3 linked regions of the Homo sapiens genome follow. The protein of the gene in region 2 purifies or fractionates together with the protein of the main gene of each other region. This does not show direct contact. Each region holds a gene or a part of one and is shown on either strand. Other genes may lie near its edges. The genes, in order: ERC1, MAP3K10 and MYO18B.

Region 1 (3,651 bases), on a different chromosome or scaffold from region 2:
GAGTCTCACTCCAGACTGGAGTGCAGTGGCGGGATCTCAGCTCACTGCAACCTCCGCCTCCCAGGTTTACGTGATTCTCCTGCCTCAGCCTCCTTAGAAGCTGGGATTACAGGCACACGCCATCACACCTGGCTAATTTTTGTATTTTTAGTAGAGTCAGGGTTTCACCACGTCGCCAGGCTGGTCTCGAACTCCTGACCTCAATGATCCGCCCACCTCGGCCTCCCAAGTGCTGGGATTACAGGTGTGAGCCATTGCACCCGGCCAACATTAACTTTTTAAAAGTAATTTCTGTTCTCAGCTGACAACACTGACTTATCCTGTGATAGTCATTTTGTTTTGTTTTTAAGAATGACTTTTTGACATTATGACAAATCTTAATGGTATACCTTACATTTAAGTTACCTACTCTAAAATACATTTGGTAATAGATATTAGAGAGTGTGGCAAAATTATACTCTCAGAAGAATTGGAAAAAAAAAAAAAAGATAACATATGCTGAAAGGAAAGACACGAAGAGAAAGAGAAACCAGAGAAAAGAACCAAGCAAGAATGGGAGCAAGGAGACATGGGCAGCTAGAAGAAAACAGGGTACAGGACCAAATTTGGAAAGGGCTGAGAAATGGAGGACACAAAACAGTAAAATCAATAGGAAAAAGGAAGATACATATACTACGAAGGGAAAAATCTAGGAAAGGGGAAAAAAAGGCTATTTCATTTATATACATGAATTCAGCCAATAAAGGTAAACACACGTAGAACTTACCTGGTTTTCCTCCTGTACAACTCTGTACTGTTCCTTCCAAATGGTGATTTTGGAAGCTTCATCTTTTCTCAGGGCTCGTTCCTTCTTCAGCTCTGGGCTCCAGAAGGTCTTGATGCTATTCATTGAAGAACTCAATTTGCTCTCCTTTACTTCCACATCCTTCCGCAAGAGATCATTTTCTCTTAATACTTCCTTCAGCTGTGTCTGCAGATCCATGATTGTGTTATCTCTCGCCTGACGAAGGGAGTGAGGTACAGTGGATGCCATACTCACAGGAGGGAGGTGATGCTCTCCAAATGCTATGGTGTCACTAGCAACCCCACTGCTAGCTATATTGGGGCTACTACCCATAGCAGTCATCCGAACACCGTAAGGCAGACGTCCCCCAGAACGGCCAAGTGTCATGGTGCTTTTAGGTGTTTCTGAACCCACATTTTCATGGTCACTTAGATACATAGGGCCAGAGGTGGCATAGGCAGCATTTAAAGATTGTATATTTTCCATTGAAAGGGTTTTCCCACTGCCACCTCCAACACTGCTTCCCGAACTCCCTCCCGTACTGTTGGTTCGACGGTGACCCAAGCGAGGGGAACGTGGAAGCCTGGGTGAACGCCCAGGGCTCTGGCTGCTCGGCTCCACCTTCCCAACAGAGCGGGCACTTCCATACATGGTTGCAAGGTCAGGAAAGGTGTGAGCAGAAAATCAACAACAACAACAACAAAAATGGGAACCTTGTGAGGTGTCTCTATGGCTACAAGTTGGTTTAAGGTTAATCAGAAGAAGGTCCCCAGCTGTCCAATCTTGAAGAAGTATCTTACACCATATCTGTAATGAAAAGATCACACATTAAATCCTCCAATAATAAATATTTCCCTTCTCAGAGACTTTCCATTACCCCCACTTAAAGAAGATCTAGCCCTTCTACCATGTATGTACTCACGCATTCAGAATGTGATTACAGCATAATGTACTCATAGTAAACAATATTTTAGAGATATTTTAGATGTCTCAAAACTGAACGCTGAAAACATACCATGCAACTGGAAAACAAACAAAAAAAGTGCCAAGTGCAATGGCTCATGCCTATAATCCCAGCGCTCTGGGAGGCCAAGGTAGGAAGATCGCTTGAGGCCAGGAGTTCAAGACCAACCTGGGATACATAGCAAGACCCTGTCTACAAAAAAGAAAAAGAAAAAAAAACAAGAAGTATAAAGATTGACAAGGAAAAGATTAAACTCAATGTCTGAATATCTGACTTGCTAACTGAAAACCCAAGATAATCAACTGACAAGTTATTAGAATAACAGAACTCAACAAACTGGTCAAACTCAATATCAATATATAAGTATCAATGTATACATCAGTAGTAACAACTAGAAAATGCAGTTTTTAATTTAAAGGAAATTTTAAATCCCATTCACAACAGCAACAAAACCATAAAAGTACTTTGATGTAAATCAACAGAAATGTGCAAGAATTTTGGGGGAAAAAAACTATAACATTTTACTGAAAGACATGAAAGAACACCTAAACAAAGTTATCTGTGTTCATGGATGAGAAGACAAACACTGCTAAGATTTAGTTCTTCCCCAACTACTTAGCACAATCCCAGTGAAAAATCTCTACAGGATTTTGCTAACCAGCTATAGATCCCTTCCTTTCACAGGTGTTGAAGGATTTTTCAAGTAACTCAACAAGCTGACTCTAAAATTCAAATGGAGAGTAAAGATACAAGAGTAACCAAACAATTTAAAATAGATGAACAAGGAAGGAAGACAGCCCTCAACAGCAACATAAATTACAAATCCATAATTCTTCATTTGTACTGCAAAAATCCAAAAACCTCTGAAAATAAGATTTTCCTTTTAACTCATCTAGCAGCAAACCTTGACCTGATCTGAGCTTACTTACTGTTTATATGTATCCCACATAGTGTGACTTCATATATTTCATTAAGAAAACAATGTGTGTGATTACTGGATACTACATAATGTCCACTAAGTATTACTGGAAAAAATTCCTGACAACAAAACCACATCTGACCTGCAAGGTTTCTTACAAAGTATTGTAGCCTTGTAAAACTATAATAACGAAAACTGTATAGTACTAGCCCAAGAACAGGGTCTAAATTATATATGGGAATTTAATATATGTTAAAAGTAACGTTTCCAAACAGTGAGTGATATGGTTTGGCTGTGTCCCCACTCAAATCTCACCTTGAATTGCAATCATCTTCATGTATCAAGGGTGGGGCCAGGTGTACTTAACTGAATCATGGGCGCAGTTTCCCCTCTACTGTTCTGGTGGTAGTGAGTGCGTCTCATGGGATCTGATAGTTTTATAAATTGGAGTTCCCCTGCACAAGTTCTCTTGCCTGTCGCCATGTAAGACATAATTTTGCTCCTCATTCGCCTTCTGCCATGATTGTGAGGTCTCCCCAGCCATGTGGAACTGAGAGTCCATTAAACCTCTTTCCTGGCAGGGTGCAGTGGCTTACATCTGTAATTCCAGCAATTTGGGAGACCAAGGCGGGTGGATCACCTGACATCAAGAGTTCGAGACCAGCCTGACCAACACGGCAAAACCCAATCTCACTAAAAGTACAAAAATTAACCAAGCATGGTGGCAGGTGCCTGTAATCCCAGCCACTCAGGAGGCTGAGGCATAAGAAGCTTGAACCCAGGCGGCAGACATTGCAGTGAGCCGAGATCGCGCCACTGCACTCCAGCCTGGGTGACAAGAGCGAGACTCCGTCTCAAAAAAAAAAAAAAAAAAAAACTTTCCTTTTTAAATTACCTAGTCTCGGGTATGTCTGTATTAGCAACATGAGAACAGACTAATACAGTGAGGAAATGAAAAATCACTCAATAAATGAAGTTTAAATA
Region 2 (3,651 bases):
TTTTATTGTAATTACCGCAATTTGAGTTTAAATTTTAAAAACAGGTATGGGGGCTGGGCGCGGTGGCTCATGTCTGTAATCCCAGCACTTTGGGAGGCCGAGGCAGGCGGATCACGAGGTCAGGAGATTGAGACCATCCTGGCTAACACGGTGAAACCCTGTCTCTACTAAAAATACAAAAAAAAAAAAAAAAAAAAAAAAGAAAGAAAGAGCCAGGCGTGGTGGCGGGTGCCTGTAGTCCCAGCTATTCAGGAGGCTGAGGCAGGAGAATGGCATGAACCTGGGAGGCAGAGCTTGCAGTGAGCCGAGATCATGCCACTGCACTCCAGCCTGGGTGACAGAGCGAGGCTCCATCTCAAAAAAAACAAAAACAAAAACAAAAAAACAAACAACAAAAAACAGGTACTCCATTTGGTTATTGGAAACATTTAAGCATGTTTGGAGCAACTTGGGTATGTATATGTACTTTTTCAACTCTAACTTTTATGAAATCTAAATACAGATCCAATATTTTTGATGGGTCAGGTACAGTAGCTCACACCTGTAATCCCAGCACTTTGGGAGGCCAAAGTGGGAGCGCTGCCTGAGCGCAGGAGTTCAAGACCACCCTGGGCAATATAGCAAGACCCCATCTCAGAAAAAAAAAAATTTTTAATGAAAATTTACTGTCCAAATTTAGATGTGCCATAAATATAAAATACATCTGGATTTCAAAGATTTAGTGTGAAAAAAGAAGGTAAAATATCTCACAATTATTTTGTATTGATTGCATGGATATATTGGGCTAAATTAAAAAATATATATATTTTTTGAGATGGAGTTTTGCTCTTGTCGCCCAGGCTGGAGTACAATGGCGCGATCTCGGCTCACTGCAACCTCTGCCTCCCAGGTTCAAGCGATTCTCCTGCCTCAGCCTCCTGAGTAGCTGGGATTACAGGCATGCGCCACCACGCCCGGCTAATTTTGTAGTTTTAGTAGAGATGGGGTTTCTCCATGTTGGTCAGGCTGGTCTCAAACTCCTGACCTCAGGTGATCTGCCCGTCTTAGCCCCAAAAAGTGCTGGGATTACAGACGTGAGCCACCCCACCTGGCCTAATAAAAAATATTAAAATTGACATCTCTTATTTCTTTTTGCTTTTATGTGTAGCTTACTAGAAAATTTAAAATTATACACGTGGCTTGTATTATATTTCCACTGGCCACTGCTGCTTAAGGCACTGCTTTCTGGCTTGTAACATCACAGAAAGAGACAAGTAGACACTACGTGCCTCCCTCCTGAATGCATTACCTGGGAAGCAGTGTGGGGAAAAAAAAAATCAAACCTGAATCTGAATCTGATTAAGTCTTGAGATCCAACTATTAGGTTGATCCATGTGAAACTTCTGTTTTTGTAGGTAAAAAAATGGTCAAATATCAGCATATATATGTATATCTTAATTATATATTTTGTGACAGAGTCTCACTCTGTCACCCAGGCTGGAGTGCAGTGGCACAATCTCGGCTCACTGCAACCTCTGCTTTCCGGGTTCAAGCGATGCTTGTGCCTCAGCCTCCCAAGTAACTGAGATTACAGGCGTGTGCACCACCACACCCAGCTAATTTTGTAGTTTTAGTAGAGGCGGGATTTCACCATGTTCTAGAGCCAGGCTGCTCTAGAACTCCTAGCCTCAAGTGATCTACGCACTTTGGCCTCCCAAAATGCTGGGATTACAGGCGTGAGCCACTGCACCTGGCCAGATTAAAAGATATTTTTAAAGAGAGATAACATGAAAAAGAAAGTTCAGAAGTGACTGTCCTAAGTGTCAAGACAGATGTTCCTCTCAGGGGATGGTGTGAGGTTGTCTGGAGGGGCAGGTAGAAAGCACTTGGGATGGCTGTGAGGTTCTCTCTGCTTTCATGGGGGTGACTAGAGTAACTCATTTGGCTGTACAGGTTTTTGGTCATTTTCTTTTTTTCTTCTTCTTCCCTTTAGAGATAGGGTCTTGCTCTGCTGCCCAGACTGGAGTGCAGTGGTGCAATTACAGCTCACTGCAGCCTCGAACTCCTGGACTCAAGTGATCCTCCCACCTCAGCCTCCCCACTAGCTTGGACTATAAGTGCATGCCAACGTGGCCAGCTAATTAAAAAAAATTTTTTTTTTTTTTGGTAAATATGGGGTCTATGTTGCCCAGGCTGGTCTCAAACTTCTGGCCTCAAGTGATCCTCCCACCTTGGCCTCCTGAGTAGGCTGGGACTACAAGTGCTCGCCACTGCACTGGGCTGATCACTGACTATGTGCGATATATTTAGCAATAAAAACAAGTTGAAAAAGAAAAGGAAGAGATAAATCCTAGGTCGGGGCTGCTCCCAGCAGCCTCTTGGGGGGCGCTCTGGGGACACGGGTGGGTACCAGAGGGCAGGCTGATGTGGCTGCCGCCTTCCCGCAGCTTGAGCAGGCGGCTGCGCTTGAAGTTGCCCTTGCGCTTGCGGACCCGGGGCTTCTCCTGGCTCAGCTGGCACATGAGCAGGTGCAGCTCCCGTTCCACGATGTCCATCTCACGTTCTGCCAGCTCCTGCTCCCGCCGCCGCAGCTGCTCCTCCTGGAAGCGCTGCTCCTGTGCCGCCCGCAGCAGCTCCTCCTCACGGCTCCGAAGCTCCTGGGAAGGAGAGGCGGTGGCTGGGGGGAGGGGCTTAGCTGCTCTGCTTCCTGGGGAGGGACCCAGGGCTGCTGCGTCTGGTTGGTGCCTCACACAAGGGTACCTTGCTGTGGGGTACACTGGTTTCACCACCCGACTCATGCTTTGCTAGCCAAGCTGGGTGCCAGGGCAGGGAACTGTGTTAGCTCAAAGAAAGGGGTGCTTTTTCTTTCTTTTTCTTTCTTAACTCTTCAATTTAGAAAACTTCAAACATCCACAAAAGCAGAGAACAGTGCACCCCCCTGTACCCATCATCCAATTTCAACAATTACCTATGCTTTGCGAATCTTGTATCCCCGTCCTTCTCTCCTCTTGCCCTCTCTTCGTTTCTGCTGTAGTATTTTAAAGCCAACCCCAGACATCATGCAGTGTCACCTGTAAGTACTTCAGTACAGGGTGCCTTTTTCTTATTAATCCACCAACAGGAGGCTGTCTTTTCTTAATATGCAAAAAAGGCTCCCTTGACCCTGCATGGACCCAAAGGCTGGGGTTCAGGGGAGGAGTCTCTGAGCAGCCCAAGGCATCAGAACTCAGGGGTCTTGCTCCATCTTTCCCACCTTGCCCCCTGCCTTCACCTTCTCCTTGGTCCGAAGGTCATCAAACATGTGCTGAATCTCCAGCTTCCAGTCTTCCTGCAGCGAGTGGAAGGACTCCAGTGGCATCTGGAACAGGGCTGACTGTTCGATGACTTCAAGCCGCTTCAAGATGCTACCGAAATCTGGCCGCCCGTGGGGGTCTGGGTCCCAGCATTCTGGGGTGGGAGGAGGAAGGACAGTGGTGGGGCATGGAGGTGTCAGTGGTCATGCTCTGGGGACTCAGCCTGCTCAGAGGAAGGCAGAATTTCTGGGGATGGCAGACAAACAGCTGCTATGGAGCTGAGGGGAAGGGATTCAAAGCCAAGCTCCTGGCCAATTCCACTCAGTGAAACGCTGGGAGAGAAACCCTGGGACCTGCACCCCGAGGAGGGGCTGGTAGT
Region 3 (3,651 bases), on a different chromosome or scaffold from region 2:
CCCTTGTCTCAGCCCATTCTCATTTCTGCTCAGCCTGGCCATTGACCAATCTCATGTTCTCATTTATTCACGGATTCACATTCCAGGTCTAGGTACCACATTTACATCCAGCTGGGTCCTGCCGCCTTGCCCCAGGGGAACCTAGTGGTGAGCAAGGCAGACAGGGCTAGTCTGGCTCTCATATGTGTCACTGGAGTCAAGAGGGCATTCATAGCTTCTGGGAACTCCCCCAGGCCTCTCAACTCAACACCAAGCAGCACAGGCTTAGGCCTCAGATTTGGATCAGTCACTTCCTGGGGGTGTGACCAGGGCCAAGTTTCATTGCTGCTGGGAGCCCCCATTTCCTCCTCTGTGGAGCGTGGGGTGACACTCGCCCCTCTGGCCTTGCTGGGGAGGTTAGAGATGATGTAGGCACATGACTCAGCCCAGAGGAGATGAGGATGGAGGCAGTGAAGGCCAGGACACCATGAGACAGGGTGCCCACTCACCATCTGCAGCTTGATCTGGGAGCACGGGGCTTTCCTCCTCACCGCGGCAAGGCTGCTGGCAAAGGTCCTCCTCACCATGCGGCTCCTCTGCAGGGCCTGCTGGGAGGTGCCCTCCAGGCCTGCCACAGCCCGGCACACAGGAGGCAGCTTGGCCCGGGCCTGGAATAGACTCCGCAGCTCCTCTCTGGTGGGGAGGAGGGAAAAGAGAGAGGAGCTTTAGGAGGTTCTTGGGAAAGCCTTGGCCTGGGTGGTGGCAAAGGGAACAAGCCTTCTTGCTTCCTGCTCCTCGGCTTCCTAAAGCCTCCTCTACAGTCATGTGTCCCAGCTGCTCCCCTTCATTCACAGCCCCTCCTGCCAGGTGAGGCTTTGCTTCATGGCAAATGCCAGCTCCTTCCTGATGCCCGTCTTCTACCTTCAAATGCTCCCTCCCTGCCTAGGCTTAGAGCATCTGTCCTATGGATATTCTTGTCACTTACATACCTACAGCAATGCTACGACACCTGTACTCTCTTAGAGGTCAAAGTCCTCTCTGCTATTCCTAGACCAGGCCTAGCACACAGTAGGCACGTGCCATGTGTTTCATGCAAGAAGGAATGACTCAGGCTGGGCACACAGTTTCTGGAGCTGCAAGATAATGTCAAATAAATACCCAGCCTGATACCTGAGCAGACAGTGCCTTCTCTCAGCATCCCTGTCATGGACAGATTCTGAGGTTAGTGGCCAGGATGCTAGCTTTTCGTTTTTGTTGTTGTTGTTGTTGGTTTTTTTGAGATGGAGTCTTGCTCTGTCGCCAGGCTGGAGTGCAGCGGTGCAATCTCGGCTTACTGCAACCTCCGCCTCCCGGGTTCAAGCGATTCTCCTGCTTCAGCCTCCCGAGTAGCTGGGACTATAGGCACACGCCACCAGGCCCAGCTAATTTTTGTGTTTTTAGTAGAGACAGGGTTTCACCATGTTGGCCAGGATGGTCTCGATCTCTTGACCTCGTGATCTGCCCACCTTGGCCTCCCAAAGTGCCAGGATTACAGGCGTGAGCCACCGCGCCCGGCCAAGGGTGCCAGCTTTTCAAGTGTCTGTTCCAGTAAAGCAGAGTGGCCTACCCTCTTCCATGAGCCAACTACGAACCGGGCTCTCTAATAGGTCATCTGCTACTTTACGTCACCAAAGCCTTCTTAGATCAGACATGGGAGCTTTGGAACCTCATTCCCATTTCTCAGATTATGAAACTGAGGTCCAGGTCATGTAGCTTAAAAGAGGGAAAAACGGAATCTGAACATCTTCCTGTCCCCAAAGCTGGGCTACAGCCGCTGAGTCTTGTAGCATCGTCCTGCTCTTATTTATGGTACAGGAAGCAGAAACAACCGAGATGAGGGAGAGCGACTGCCCACGGTCACTCAGGTGACAAAGGGCAGGGCTGAGACTCAACCTGTGCCACCTGGGTCATCATTCAGTCCTCTGTGTGCTCGCAACTCCTGTTGCCCCAGCCCTGGCCTGAATCTCTCTCCAGGAGCTGGATGTTCACGAGCCCCACTCCTGGATGTGGGTTTCCAATCAGCTCTGACATAATGTTCTGGGAATTCTCCAAGCATCTCTTAGACTCAAGTTGGGTCCTGGCTGTGCCACTGTTCTGCTGTGTGAGCAAAGGCAAGCCACTTCACTGCTCGGGGCCTCAATTTTTCTCATGTGTAAAATGGGACTAAGGATCTTGTGTTGTGATAAGGATTCAGAAGATACTCATAAAGCGTTTATGCTGATCCAAGGCACATAGGGAGTAGTGAGTAAGTGGTTCTTTCTCATCCTGGTGCCCATCTGAGACACCAGCACCTCCCTGGTCGTCTCAGTTTCTCTTCTTGTCTCTAAGCTCTACCCCTGAGGAATTCCAGCATTGAACTTGGGAGTGTGCATGCACACACACACACACAGCATTTTCCAATAAGCCTCTGAACTAAAAGCAGAGAATGCTGCCGGCCTCACGCCAGCACTCTGGGCTGAGCAGCCAGGGAACATGGTGAGCTTTTTTTTAACGCTACAAAACGTATCATTTCAGTTTTATGAACCCCTAGTTCTTGAATGTCCATAAAAGTTGTTCCAGTCACATCATCTCTCAGATACTTAATGAAAGGCAAAGTGCCAAAATAAGAAGTCACAGCTTTTTAGCTTTTGTTCCACCTCCCCAGGAGGCCAGCTTTTCTCCTCAGCTGGATTCACTCTGGCCCCAGGGAGACACTGCACTGCTCCAATTCAAGTTATGGTTCTTTGCTCCATTATGGAGGGATGGGATTCCTGGGCTGGCCCTCCCACACTGTGTTGTAGTGACTGCCTAGTTTAGGTGGGAAGGAAAACACAGTGCCTCCAATGCTCCATCCCCGTCCCCAACCCTGACCCAACTCACCTTTTTGACTGGTGCAGGACCTGGGGTGCATCCAGGGCCGAGAGGTTGGGCTTGGCTCTGTGGAGCCAGCCCGTGAGGTCGTACCGCACAGGGTCCCATCCCAACTGGTGGAAAATCTCACACTGGAGGGGCTGCTCACAGGTCCGCAGGGCAGAGGACCCTGGAAACAGACATGGTGGCATGAGTGCTGGAGCCTGTTGAGGACACTCTGCAATCAGCTGGCATCCCTTAAACGCACAGTATCCATCTTAACGTGTTTCCAGATAGCTAACGCTCATGGTCGAAGGCACCCACATTTCTCCTGCTGTAGTGAATTTGTGTACATTATTTCCAAAGTGGATTTTATTCTTTCTTGCTTTCTTAAATCTAGGACACCTGTTTTTCCCAAACATCATCCGTACACTCGATCTCCTCGAGTTTTTCTATATATATAACCACGTATCACCTGGACTGTGATTTACTTGATGTTTTCTTTAAATCGACTTACATTTTCACAAGTACAGTACATTCATTTTAAAAGAAGCATCATATTGCCGATTTGATGTGCAAGATATGTTTATTTTCTGATATGCATGGAAATTATGATGAAATATTTTTAAAATATTTAGTTTTATGCCGCGTAAAATCATTTTGAATACCATCAACCAAATAAATACAGGGAATACTTTTGGGAGATACAGGCACATCGGTTCCAAGAGACAGGGTGGGAGAAAAAAATGGGCCTGATCTTGGGGGCTAGAGAAATCCTAGGTTCTTTACCATTTATTACTGTGT

What was found.
Region 1: the proteins of MAP3K10 (region 2) and ERC1 purify together in Homo sapiens (affinity purification with mass spectrometry; one large-scale study listed by BioGRID and IntAct). This does not show direct contact.
Region 3: the proteins of MAP3K10 (region 2) and MYO18B purify together in Homo sapiens (affinity purification with mass spectrometry; one large-scale study listed by BioGRID and IntAct). This does not show direct contact.

Annotation. Positions count from the first base shown.
Region 1 is NC_000012.12:1,025,688-1,029,338, reverse strand, and holds part of ERC1 (ELKS/Rab6-interacting/CAST family member 1), read right to left. Parts: intron 1,592-3,651; 5' UTR 1,436-1,591; coding exon 767-1,435; intron 1-766. UniProt on the Homo sapiens protein: Regulatory subunit of the IKK complex. Probably recruits IkappaBalpha/NFKBIA to the complex. May be involved in the organization of the cytomatrix at the nerve terminals active zone (CAZ) which regulates neurotransmitter release.
Region 2 is NC_000019.10:40,204,896-40,208,546, reverse strand, and holds part of MAP3K10 (mitogen-activated protein kinase kinase kinase 10), read right to left. Parts: intron 3,427-3,651; coding exon 3,251-3,426; intron 2,637-3,250; coding exon 2,390-2,636; intron 1-2,389. UniProt on the Homo sapiens protein: Activates the JUN N-terminal pathway.
Region 3 is NC_000022.11:25,843,121-25,846,771, reverse strand, and holds part of MYO18B (unconventional myosin-XVIIIb), read right to left. Parts: intron 3,038-3,651; coding exon 2,878-3,037; intron 673-2,877; coding exon 489-672; intron 1-488. UniProt on the Homo sapiens protein: May be involved in intracellular trafficking of the muscle cell when in the cytoplasm, whereas entering the nucleus, may be involved in the regulation of muscle specific genes.